Linked DNA regions of Homo sapiens: region 1 is linked to region 2. A link means that fine-mapping ties the variant in region 2 to the expression of a gene that starts in the linked region. Tissue or cell type: sigmoid colon. Region 2 holds a variant in brackets; the other region holds the start of a gene. All regions are shown on one strand. Distances are between the middles of the regions.

Region 1 (5,105 bases), 40 kb before region 2:
CATTGTGTGAACAATTTCTAGGGCTCCTCCCCTTGCAAATGAGGGGCCCTGTGGTAGCCACTGAGTGCTAAGAAGCGAGATGTTCTTCCTACCAACCGTCGGCTTTAGACTGGGCCACCTCGTGGCTGCCCAGGTTGGAGAAGGGTTGTGAAGCATGGGGTTTGTAGTCAGAAGATATGGGTTGGATCCTGGACAAAACGTGGGCTGTAAAGCACTGTACAGGCATCAGTTACTCTTACTGGCCAAATGAGCACTTGTTAAGTGCATCTGGCATTTGAGGCCAGTGCTGGTACCAAGTGCTCCGCTAAATGCTGGAACGACTGAGAAAGAGCCACCACTCTGCCTCGCATGCTTCTCTGGGACACACAGACCTGGGGGCCTGAGCCCTAGGTGGGAAAGCACTCAGAGGTAATTTCTCCTTCTGGGAGGGCTGCACAGCCCCCAGCCCAGGGCAATGAACAAACAGGGGGAGCCCAGGAAGGGGAGTCCTGTCCAGGGCACAGTCTTCGAGTCCCCAGGACACCATCACCTGCCACGGCACAGAACCGCAGGCTGTGAGAGTTGATTCCAGGGGTGTATTTTATAGCTTACTGATGAGCTGTCCTCTCCTGTCTCAGGATCTGACCTGTGCCCTGGCTGGCTCGAAGGCTCCATCTTTTGGGAGGAGACTGAAAACTGCTTCAGAAAGATGCCAAGAGAAAGAACAAGATCATTTTCACCTTCTGACATGAAAAACAGGATGACGCAGCCAGGTGCCAGGCTTGCAGGCCAGGCTGTGGTCTGGAGACAGGATCTTTCCACTTCCGTCTTTCCTCCTCCCTCACCTCTTTAAGTCCAGGACTGACTCTGCAGGGACCTCCTGTCTTGCACCCCCTCCATGCAAGCCCCGAGCCTCGAGGCTGGATGCTGGGTGGTAGGAAAGGGCTGTGATTTGTGGAAAGTGCAGGAAACATCTGCCTTGTTCTGGACCCAGGGGACTGTGGGAAGGAAAGGGGGAGGGAGGAGAGTGGAGCCAGCTGATGTGTGTCCCAGATGTTCCGTCTTTGGGCTTTTGGGCAAAGTGAGGGGGCCCTGGGAGGGACAGTCAGTGAGGTATGAGACTCTGGCTCTGGGGGACACTGCCTGGAAGGCTGCCCTCCACTGCCTGGGGCACTGTCCTATCAGCATCTGCTGGAGTGACTGCCAGTGAAGCCAGGCAGAGGCTCTTCCCTTCCCAGTGCGGCCTGGAGGAAAGCGAACAGGCCTGCCCTGGGTGCGAGGGGTGACAGGGTAAGGCGACCTCATAGCAAATGCCAGGGGTCAAGGGCTGGCCAGGGGTCAGAGGGATGGTGGGGCAGAGTCTCATGGCCCACAGCCAGCGAGATCCGGGTCGGCGATGGCGACACCGTTTACTTGCCAGACTTCAGGCACACCTGGGGAAAGGTGCACGGGGGCACCACCTTGGTGGCCAGTTGATGCCACCCAAGGACCAGCATAGGGCCAAAGATCACCCGAGGTCACCTGCCTCCTCCACAAAGATGCCGTCTTAGGCAGAGAAGGTGGTTGGGAGAAAGCTTTCATATTCAAATGAGATTCCTGTTATCCACCCATAGATAACCAGCTTAAAGCAGGGTAGGGCTAAAAGCTAATATTTTCCCCCAACCAGATAATCTGCTATAAACAAATAAATTGCATCTTCCAGCGGGGTTGCATTGTGAGATCCAGGACACAGGTGTTGTGGGGAGTTTTGACATGCAGGGAAGTGACCCCCACATGCAGCTGCAAAGTCCTTGGGGCTCCCCCAAGAAGGCGGGCCAGACACTTGGCAGGGACGAGGTGGGAGGCAGCTCACGGCTCGGGAATCTCCAGGGCATGGGCTCGCACAGGTGGGAAGCACCTGTGGGCGGCTCTCAAGCCCCCATCTCATTGGTGCCCACGGTGGGCGTCTCCCCACCTTCCAGCTCGGGCTCCTCGCGAAGCGCCTGTTGGAGCACAGTCCCCAGGGACCTGGTGGGCAGCCTGTGGCTCCTCCGGCTGCCCACCAGGAAGTAGATGACGGGGTTGGCGCTGCTGCTTACGGACGAGGAGAGGCGTGACAAGCTGAAGCACAGGACCTGCATCTCGGGCGGCAGGCTCAACCAGTAGAGCACAAACCAGTAGATGCTCAGAGGCAGGGAACAGATGAGGAACACCAGGACAGAGGCCAGGACCACCACGAACAGCCGTGTGGGCTGCCGCCGCCACTGCTGGGAGCTCCTCCGCACCCAGACAAAGAGGGTCAGGCTGGACAGAGTCATCACTGGGGTTAAGACCCCCATGATGAGGGCGGCCTGGACCATGTCCACCCTGAAGCACCGATCTTCATTGAATTTCAAGAACTTGCTGCAGAAGGAAGAGGTCAACCCGTTCATCAGGAGACAGAGTGTCCACAGCAGGCCACACACCCAGGCTGACAGGTGCCTGGGCCGGTGACACTTGAACCAGATAGGGAAGAGGACAGAGAGACAGCGCTGGGTGCTGATGGCCGTCAGCAGGCTCAGGCCCACTGTGTAGGCAAAGTACATCAGTCTCTTCATCAGCTCGTGGACCTTGTCAGTGGTATTGACCAGGGGCTGGGTTTCCAGGCTGAGCGTGGAAGCCATGCTGAAGAGGAAGAGGAGGTCGGCTGCCGCCAGGTTGAGGATATAGATGCAGAAGGGGTTCCTGTGCATTCGAAAGCCCAGCAGCCAGATCACCATGCTGTTGCCTGCCATCCCGCACAGGCAGGTGAACATGGCCAGGGAGCTCAGCACCAGGTAGGCCGTGTGCACTGTGCTCCCTCTGGAATAGTTTAGGGCTGACTCCACGGTCCCACTGCTATTCAAAGTCTGGTTCATCCCTACGAGAGGAAGATGTACCAATGTGAAATTCTGTGTTGCTGGGACCACGGGGGACCCCTGGGTGCCCCTCGAATTTCCAGCTTCAGAGCTCTCCCCTCCAGGTTCTTTATGTAACAGACCATGACCGGGAGGCTTAACCTTCCCCCACTCCTGTGACTCACTCAGCCCAGATCTGCCTCCAGGGTCACCTTTATAGCTACAAAGCTGTTATAAATACCCTTTATCAGGTTAAAAAATTCTCTTCTATCTTGCTTTGAATTATTTTTTAAATCATGGAGAGGTATTGAATTTTATCAAATGCTTTTTCTACATCTATTATAGAAAAATCATTATTATCAATAGATGTAGAAAAACTATTTGATAGAAACATTTGAAATCATTTTTTTTTTCTCCTGTAATTGTCAAACCCTGTGAGTTAATTAAAAAAACAATAGACCTTAGGGCTGGGCGTGGTGGTGCATGCCTGTAACCCCAGCACTTTGGGGTTTGCTTGAGGCCAGGAGTTTGAGACCAGCCTGGGCCACATAGCAAGATCTCATCTCTACAATTTTTTTTTTTAATTAGCCAGGCATGGTGGCACACACCTGTGGTCCCACCTACTTGAGAGGCCAAGGCGGGAGGATCGCTTGAGCCTGGCACATTGAGGTTGTAGTGAGCCATGGTCCCGCCACTGCACCCCAGCCTGGAAGACAGAGCGAGATGCTGTCTCTTAAAAAAAAAAAAAAATTAGACCTCAGGGCAAAGTGTAGAATTAACTACACTCCTTAGTTTAAGACACACCATGAGCATCAGCCCATTAAAAACCCTCCATTTATTCAAGTTTCCTTCCCCATCCCATCTTAGCTGCCTTTTTCCTCCTGCCGCTTGCATCCATCCAACCTGTTTCACGCAAATCCTTGGACACCTCAATATCTTTCAAGATGGAGTGGTTGCCCATTGTGTTTTAAATTTACGTAAATGTTGTGATTTAGAATTAATGATGGGTTTTTTATTTTTCACTTGACAATATGTTTGTAGGATATATCCAGGTGGCTGTATGCAAAAGTTGTGGTTTAAAATGTCATCATGCACATTGATCTGTTATCCATTCCTTACTGTGGATCCTCAGCTTGCTTCAAAATTCCCATTATCACCAAAACACTGTGTTGGACATCCTCATGCATGTACCCATTGGACTTGACTCAATATTTTTCTGGGATACATTCTTGGAGGAGGATTGCTCGGTCATAGAACATATGCACATTTAGTCTCACTAAATATTGCCTGGTAATTCTTTTTCTGAGTGGCTGCTTCAGGTTTCACCTGTACCAGCAGAATAGGAATGTTTACGTTTTCCCATTCTCTCACCAACACTTGGTGTTATTTGTTTTTCTAACTTTTGCCAACCTGATGGTTGCAAAGTGATATACTGTAGATGTTTTAACTTGCATTTCTGTGATTACAGTGAGTTTGAGCATCAATTCATATATCTGTTAGCCATTTGGAGTTCCCCTTCTTCAAATTGTCTGTTCACACCTGTTGTCCATTTTTCAATTGGGTTTCTTTTCTTTTCCTTTCTGATTTGCAAGAGTTGCTTGTATTTCTAGGTATTAATGCCTTCCTGGATTTAGACATTGCAGATACTTTTCTCTGAGAACGCTCTGTTTTTTATGGCAACTTTATCTATTGTGAACTTTGGTTGGAAGACATCCTAAATTTTGGTATAGCCAACTCTTCAGAATTTTTTTCTCTGAAATTTTGTGTCTTCTAAATCTGAAAGTATTCTGTCTCCCTGGATAAAAAATGTAGTCTTTTCTATTTTCTTCTATTACTTTTATAGTTTTTCCCATTCAGATTTTGTTCTTGGATCCAACTGGAATCTATTTTTTATGAGCTTGATTTTTCCTCCATAGTATGGATCAGCTTTCCTAACACTGTCTCCTAAACAGTCTGTCCTTTCCCTATTGACTTATTAAGTTCTCATTTACACATGGGACTGGGTTTTTAATTTCATTCTTCATTCTGTGTCATTGGTTTGTCTCTCAGTTCCTACAACATTAACACAGTGTTTTGTTTTGTTTTTTTTTTTAAATATGTCTTTCTGCTATGTCATTTTATTTTATGAGATGCATGTCCCTTCTTTAACTTTGTTTGCCAAAATTGAATTAGCCATTTGTGAATCTTTATTCTTCCTTAAAATTTTAGAGCAAATTTTTGGAATTCCTAAAAGAAAGAAACTCTCAAGTTTTCAGTAGAAGCTCATAGAAC
Region 2 (5,205 bases):
TCTCACTCTGTTGCCCAGGCTGGATTGCAGTGGCAAGATCTTGGCTCATTGTGTCTCCCGGGTTCAAGCGATTCTTCTGCCTCAGACTCTTGAGTAGCTGGGACTACAGGCAGTGCCACCACGCCTGGCTAATATTTGTATTTTTAGTGGAGACGGGGTTTCACCATGTTGGTGAGGCTGGTCTCAAACTCTTGACCTCATGTGATCCCCCGACCTCGGCCTCTCAAAGTGCTGGGATTACAGGTGTGAGACACCGTGCCCTGCCTGATGTGCTCCTTTTAATGACAGGTTCCCCGCAGCATCTCCCTGTCCCTCTTCCTCAGTCTCTCTCCTTCCTGCCCTCCTCCTCCCCCGGCCCTGACTTGGGTCAAGAAACAGACACATCACACTATCAGGGAAATAGGGGTTCACACGTGGCGTGGGCAGGTCTGAGGCGTGCGAGTCTGGAAAGCTGTAGTCAGAGAATCAGAGGAACGCTCACTGGGACTTTGGCCAGCCCCTGTGTGGGTACTGGAGCTGGAAGAGCTTGGGAAGCTGCCCCGTGTGGCCGCCACAAGCCTGAAGGAAGAGCTCGTGGGGAGGTCTGTGAAGCCACTGCATCTGGGCGCCATGGCCTCCTGGGAATCACGGGTCCCAACTGACTCACCTTCCAAACCTCACCACGAGCCCTTCTCATTGAGAAACTCTGACCCAGCATCTGTCATGGAAGGGACTCGGGGAACAGTTTCCAGCCATAGGAGGAGGTCATGGGACTGAGAGGCCGTCCAGGTCCAGCACACTCCAACTGTCAATTTGCCATGCGGATACTCTTTTAACGAGACTTAACCTTTTAGTGGGGAGGTGCAAGGAGTTTATTTTAGGGGGTGACCCCAAGAAACATTACAGGGAAGGAAAAGAGTTCTGAGAATTCTCTCCCACTTTGCTTTGAGGGGTCCTGTCTTCAGCTTACCACTGCCCTTGCCTTCTCTGTGGATTATTATGGCAACAGACACTTGCAAACCCTAGGTAGGTCCTCAGCGAGGGTGGCTTGAGCAGCCAGAGACAGGCTGAGAGCAGCTGCCAGGATGGCTGTCGGACCCTCAGGGGCCTGGCGGGAAGCTCACTCCTGCTTTGGGGCAGCAAGAGAGAGGGAAACAGGAGTTGAAGTTGCACTGAACACTGAGGTCACGTGCGGGCTTTCCTTCTGGGCCTGCCACTGGTACGCAAACAAAACTCAAATATGTCTTCAAACCCAATCAAACTTCGTCACAGTTTCCCCTGAGACTGGTGCAAAACTAGTACAAAACTCTTGCTTTCTCAAGTCTGAGAGATCTGGGGTCTTCTGTTTGGGAGAGACCATGTTTCCTATAAACTTTTTATCAGAAGCAGCTATTTCCAGACAAAACTTCTGAATGTTCAGCCTCGAACGCATCTCTTGAATCTGGAATTTCCCCAAGGCTTGATTCCATGGGATGGCTGAACAGATAACACTGACTGGGGGATGGGTGTAGGTGTGTTGGTGTGTATATTTCAAGTCACTTTTGCTTCTTTAAAAATATTTAATTCCAGGAACATTTTTTAAAATTGTGATAAATTGTGCATAGTATGAAATTTATCTTTAGCAATTTATATATTTTTTTGTTTAGCTAGAGTCTAGTTCTGTTGCCCAGGCTGGAGTGCAGTGGCACGATCTCGGCTCACTGCAACTTCCGCCTCCCGGGTTCCAGTGTTTCTCCTGCCTCAGTCTCCTGTGGAGCCGGGATTACAGGCACGCACCACCGCACCCAGCTAATTTTTGTATTTTTAGTAGAGACAGGGGGTTTCACCATGTTGGCCAGGCTGGTCTCAAACTCCTGACCTCAGGTGATCCACCTGCCTCGGCCTCCCAAAGTGCTGGGATTACTGCGCCCGTCCCCATTTGTCCCTTGATCCATATCTGGGTCATGTCCATCTCTGTCCTTCCTAAGCCACACCTGCCTTGCACATTCTGTAACTTCAATGCTAGGTATAGGGCTGACAGCTATGAACACACATCAGATAGACTAGGAATGGGAGGGAGGGAAAGGAAAAAGAACTCAGTAATATATACCATGTACGCATACCGAAGCAGGGGTGAGAGCACAAGCAACCACCGCAAACCTTGTTCCCGTGATAAGGAACAGATAAGGCCTCTTTTCCCCAGCACGTTCCACGCTGCCTTTGCCCACCCGCCATTTCAGCTTGTCACTGTTCTTGGCCTGGTGGGGCGATCCAGGCCTTCATTTTTTTTTTTTTTTTTTTTGAGATGGAGTCTCACTCTGTCATACAGGCTGGAGTGCAGCGGCATGACCTTGGGTCACTGCAAGCTCCGCCTCCCAGGTTCAAGCGATTCTCCTGCCTTAGACTCCCGAGTAG[C/T]TGGAACTACAGGCATGTGCCACCACACCTGGCTGATTTTTTGTATTTTTAGTAGAGTAGGGTTTCACCGTGTTAGCCAGGATGCAGGCCTTCATTCTCGAAGGATCTGTGCCCTGGGTGGGGCTACCTCTTTTGCATTGCTGTAGTTTCCTGTGACTTTTTACCATGGGACACCAGAGTGCTATGGGATATGTCAGAGAATCTCCTGGATTCTAGGCATGGGTCTCCCATTTCCATCATAGCAACCCATGAGGGCCAGCCACCTCAGCCGGTGCCGTGACCCCCTCTGTGCTGGTGGGCTCAGGGGTTGATGGTTCAGAGCCTACACTTCATCCTGTGGTCCCACAACATGTCATCGTCTGCCATGAAAAGGTCATTCCTGTGTCCAAAAACTGCTCCTTGCTTAGGATGATGGGGAACTTGGCAAGACAGAGAATTCAGTGGGTACAAGCCAACGGGTCCATTGCATTTGTGAAAACTAAGCTTCTTGATCAGAAGCAATGCGTGGGGAATACACTAATGATCTGTAAGGTCCCATACGCCCATGGATGGTGGTTCTGGCAGAAGCACTGTAGGCAAGGAAGACAAATCCATATTCAAAACAAGTGATTGGACGGGTGCGGTGGCTCACGCCTGTAATCCCAGCACTTCGGAAGGCCAAGGCAGGCAGATCACAATGTCAGGAGTTTGAGACCAGCCTGACCAACATGATGAAACCCCGTCTCTACTAAAAATACAAAAAAGATTAGCCGGGCATGGTGGTGCGCTCCTGTAATCCCAGCTACCAGCCTGAGCGACAGAGCAAGACTTTGTCTCAAAAACAAAACAAAACAAAACAAAAAACCAAGTGATTATTCCAGGAAAAACAAATCTCTGCCCTTTCCAAGTGGAATCAGTCCAAGGAAATCAACCTGCCACGCACGAGGTGGCTGGCTGTCCCCTGGGAAATGATGTCCCATCATGGGCCTGTAGGATCTCAACAGTGATTGTAGATGGTCAGCCTTGGCCAGGGGAAGCTCACATGGCTGAGCTCATGGGAAACCAGGTGGCCAGAGAAACAGGCTGAGTGTCATCCTCGGAATAGGTCATCCGGTCCACCTGTTTAGTGAGAGCCGTCTCTGGGAGGCTGACCGTTGGCCAGTATTTACATGGGACACAAAGAGCTATCTGCCCCCCTTATGCCCATTAAAAGGGATTCGCCTTCATGCCTCTTCCCGAGACCTTGGATTAATTGTCCAATAGTGTTCCTTCCAAGCTCCGGAGCAGTCGTTAGATCCTGCCCATGAATCAGTGTAGACTCACATCTCTGACCATCTCTCCTTCTGTGTAATGTGAACAACCAGGTGCACTGTTTGCAAGTCTGTCCCCGGACACTTCAGGGCCACCCTTACTGGGGCAGTAGAGCTCCAGCTGCCCACTTTCAGGCGATGCCAGCGAGCCATACATAAAACAGACCTGGAGTTTTTTCTTTCTTGGTCAGCTGGTCATAAGGGACTCCCATGAGATCATTCATGTGGAGGCGGGGAGGAGCTCTGCAGTGAAGGGGGTGCACGGGAGTCTGGGCCATCTGCTTGTGCAACGGACTTCAGGAGCTGCTCAAGTCTGAGCTCACGTGGCCCACTTCTACCTGATCACGGTGCTACAGCACACATTACCTGTATCATGTGTTGGATTGGTTACCGTCTAGTTTCGGGTGGGCAGCTCAGATCCTGTGGGAAAATGTGACACATTTAGTCCAACAGCAAGCCAGAAGCTGTTTTTCTTTTTCTTTCTTTCTTTCTTTTTTTTTTTTTTGAGACAGTGTCTCACTCTGTCTCCCAGGCTGGAGTGCAGTGGCAGGATCTTGGCTCACTGCAACCTCTGCCTCCCGGGTTCAAGCGATTCTCCTGCCTCAGCCTCCTGAGTAACTGGGATTACAAGCGCCTACCACCACGCCCGGCTAATTTTTGTATTTTTAGTAGAGATGGGGTTTCACCATATTGGCCAGGCTGGTCTTGAACTTCTGACCTTGTGATCTGCCCACCTTGGCCTTCCAAAGTGCTGGGATTACAGGCGTGAGCCACCGCACCTGGACTTTTCTCTTCTCTTCTCTTCTTTTCTTTTTTTGAGACAGAGTTTCACTCTTGTCACCCAGGCTGGAGTGCAATGGTGCCATCTCGGCTCACTGCAATCTCCGCCTCCCGGGTTCATAGCAATTCTCCTGCCACAGCCTCCTCAGTAGCTGGGATTACAGGCACCTGCCATTATGCCCGGCTAATTTTTATATATTAGTAGAGACAGGGTTTCACCATGTTGGCCAGGCTGGTCTTGAATGCCTGACCTCAGGTGATCCGCCTTGGCCTTGGCCTCCCAAAGTGCTGGGATTACAGGTGTGAGCCACCGCGCCCAGCCCAGAAGCTGTTTTTCAAAAGGAGAATAGTTATCTTCAGAAGAGGACATGTCTTTGCTCTAAAATCCCAGTGGTCTCTTCTGTGACACCTGTTGGAGCCTGCCAGAGGCCTCATACAGAATCCCTACTTGCCCCGGACACCTCAAGATCCACTGGATCTGTTGGGTCTGTTGGGCTCAATAGCATGACAGCTTGAAAGCAGCCTGGATGTATTGCAGAGGCTTCTCTCATTCTGGGTCCTGAAACTGGCAGCAGCCTTGCAGGTTACCAGTGAGTCGGTCGGAAGAGCACACCTGAATGAGGTGTAAGCTGCACCAAAACCCAGAGCCCCACCAAAGGTCATGCCACTTTCTTAACAGGAGGGGGTGCCTGGTGCAGCAACTGGTCTTCCTCTTCAAGGGGCTATCTCAACACGCCCCCCACCATTGTACCCCTAGAAACTT

Evidence for each region. PIP is the estimated chance that this variant, and not a neighbour inherited with it, causes the effect.
Region 1: it holds the start of MRGPRD, and the variant in region 2 is fine-mapped to the expression of MRGPRD in sigmoid colon (GTEx, PIP 0.95).

What each region holds. Positions count from the first base shown.
Region 1 is chr11:68,978,132-68,983,236 of GRCh38, forward strand. It overlaps MRGPRD (MAS related GPR family member D), which reads right to left and starts at 2,855. Exons shown (of 1, transcript NM_198923.2): 1 at 1,890-2,855. The coding sequence starts at 2,855. The coding sequence ends at 1,890. RefSeq lists an enhancer at 1,835-2,344.
Region 2 is chr11:69,018,549-69,023,753 of GRCh38, forward strand. No RefSeq gene overlaps it. Among named protein-coding and RNA genes, the nearest start is that of MRGPRF, 7.9 kb to the left of the region's middle. The variant C/T (reference allele first, on the strand shown) is at 2,374.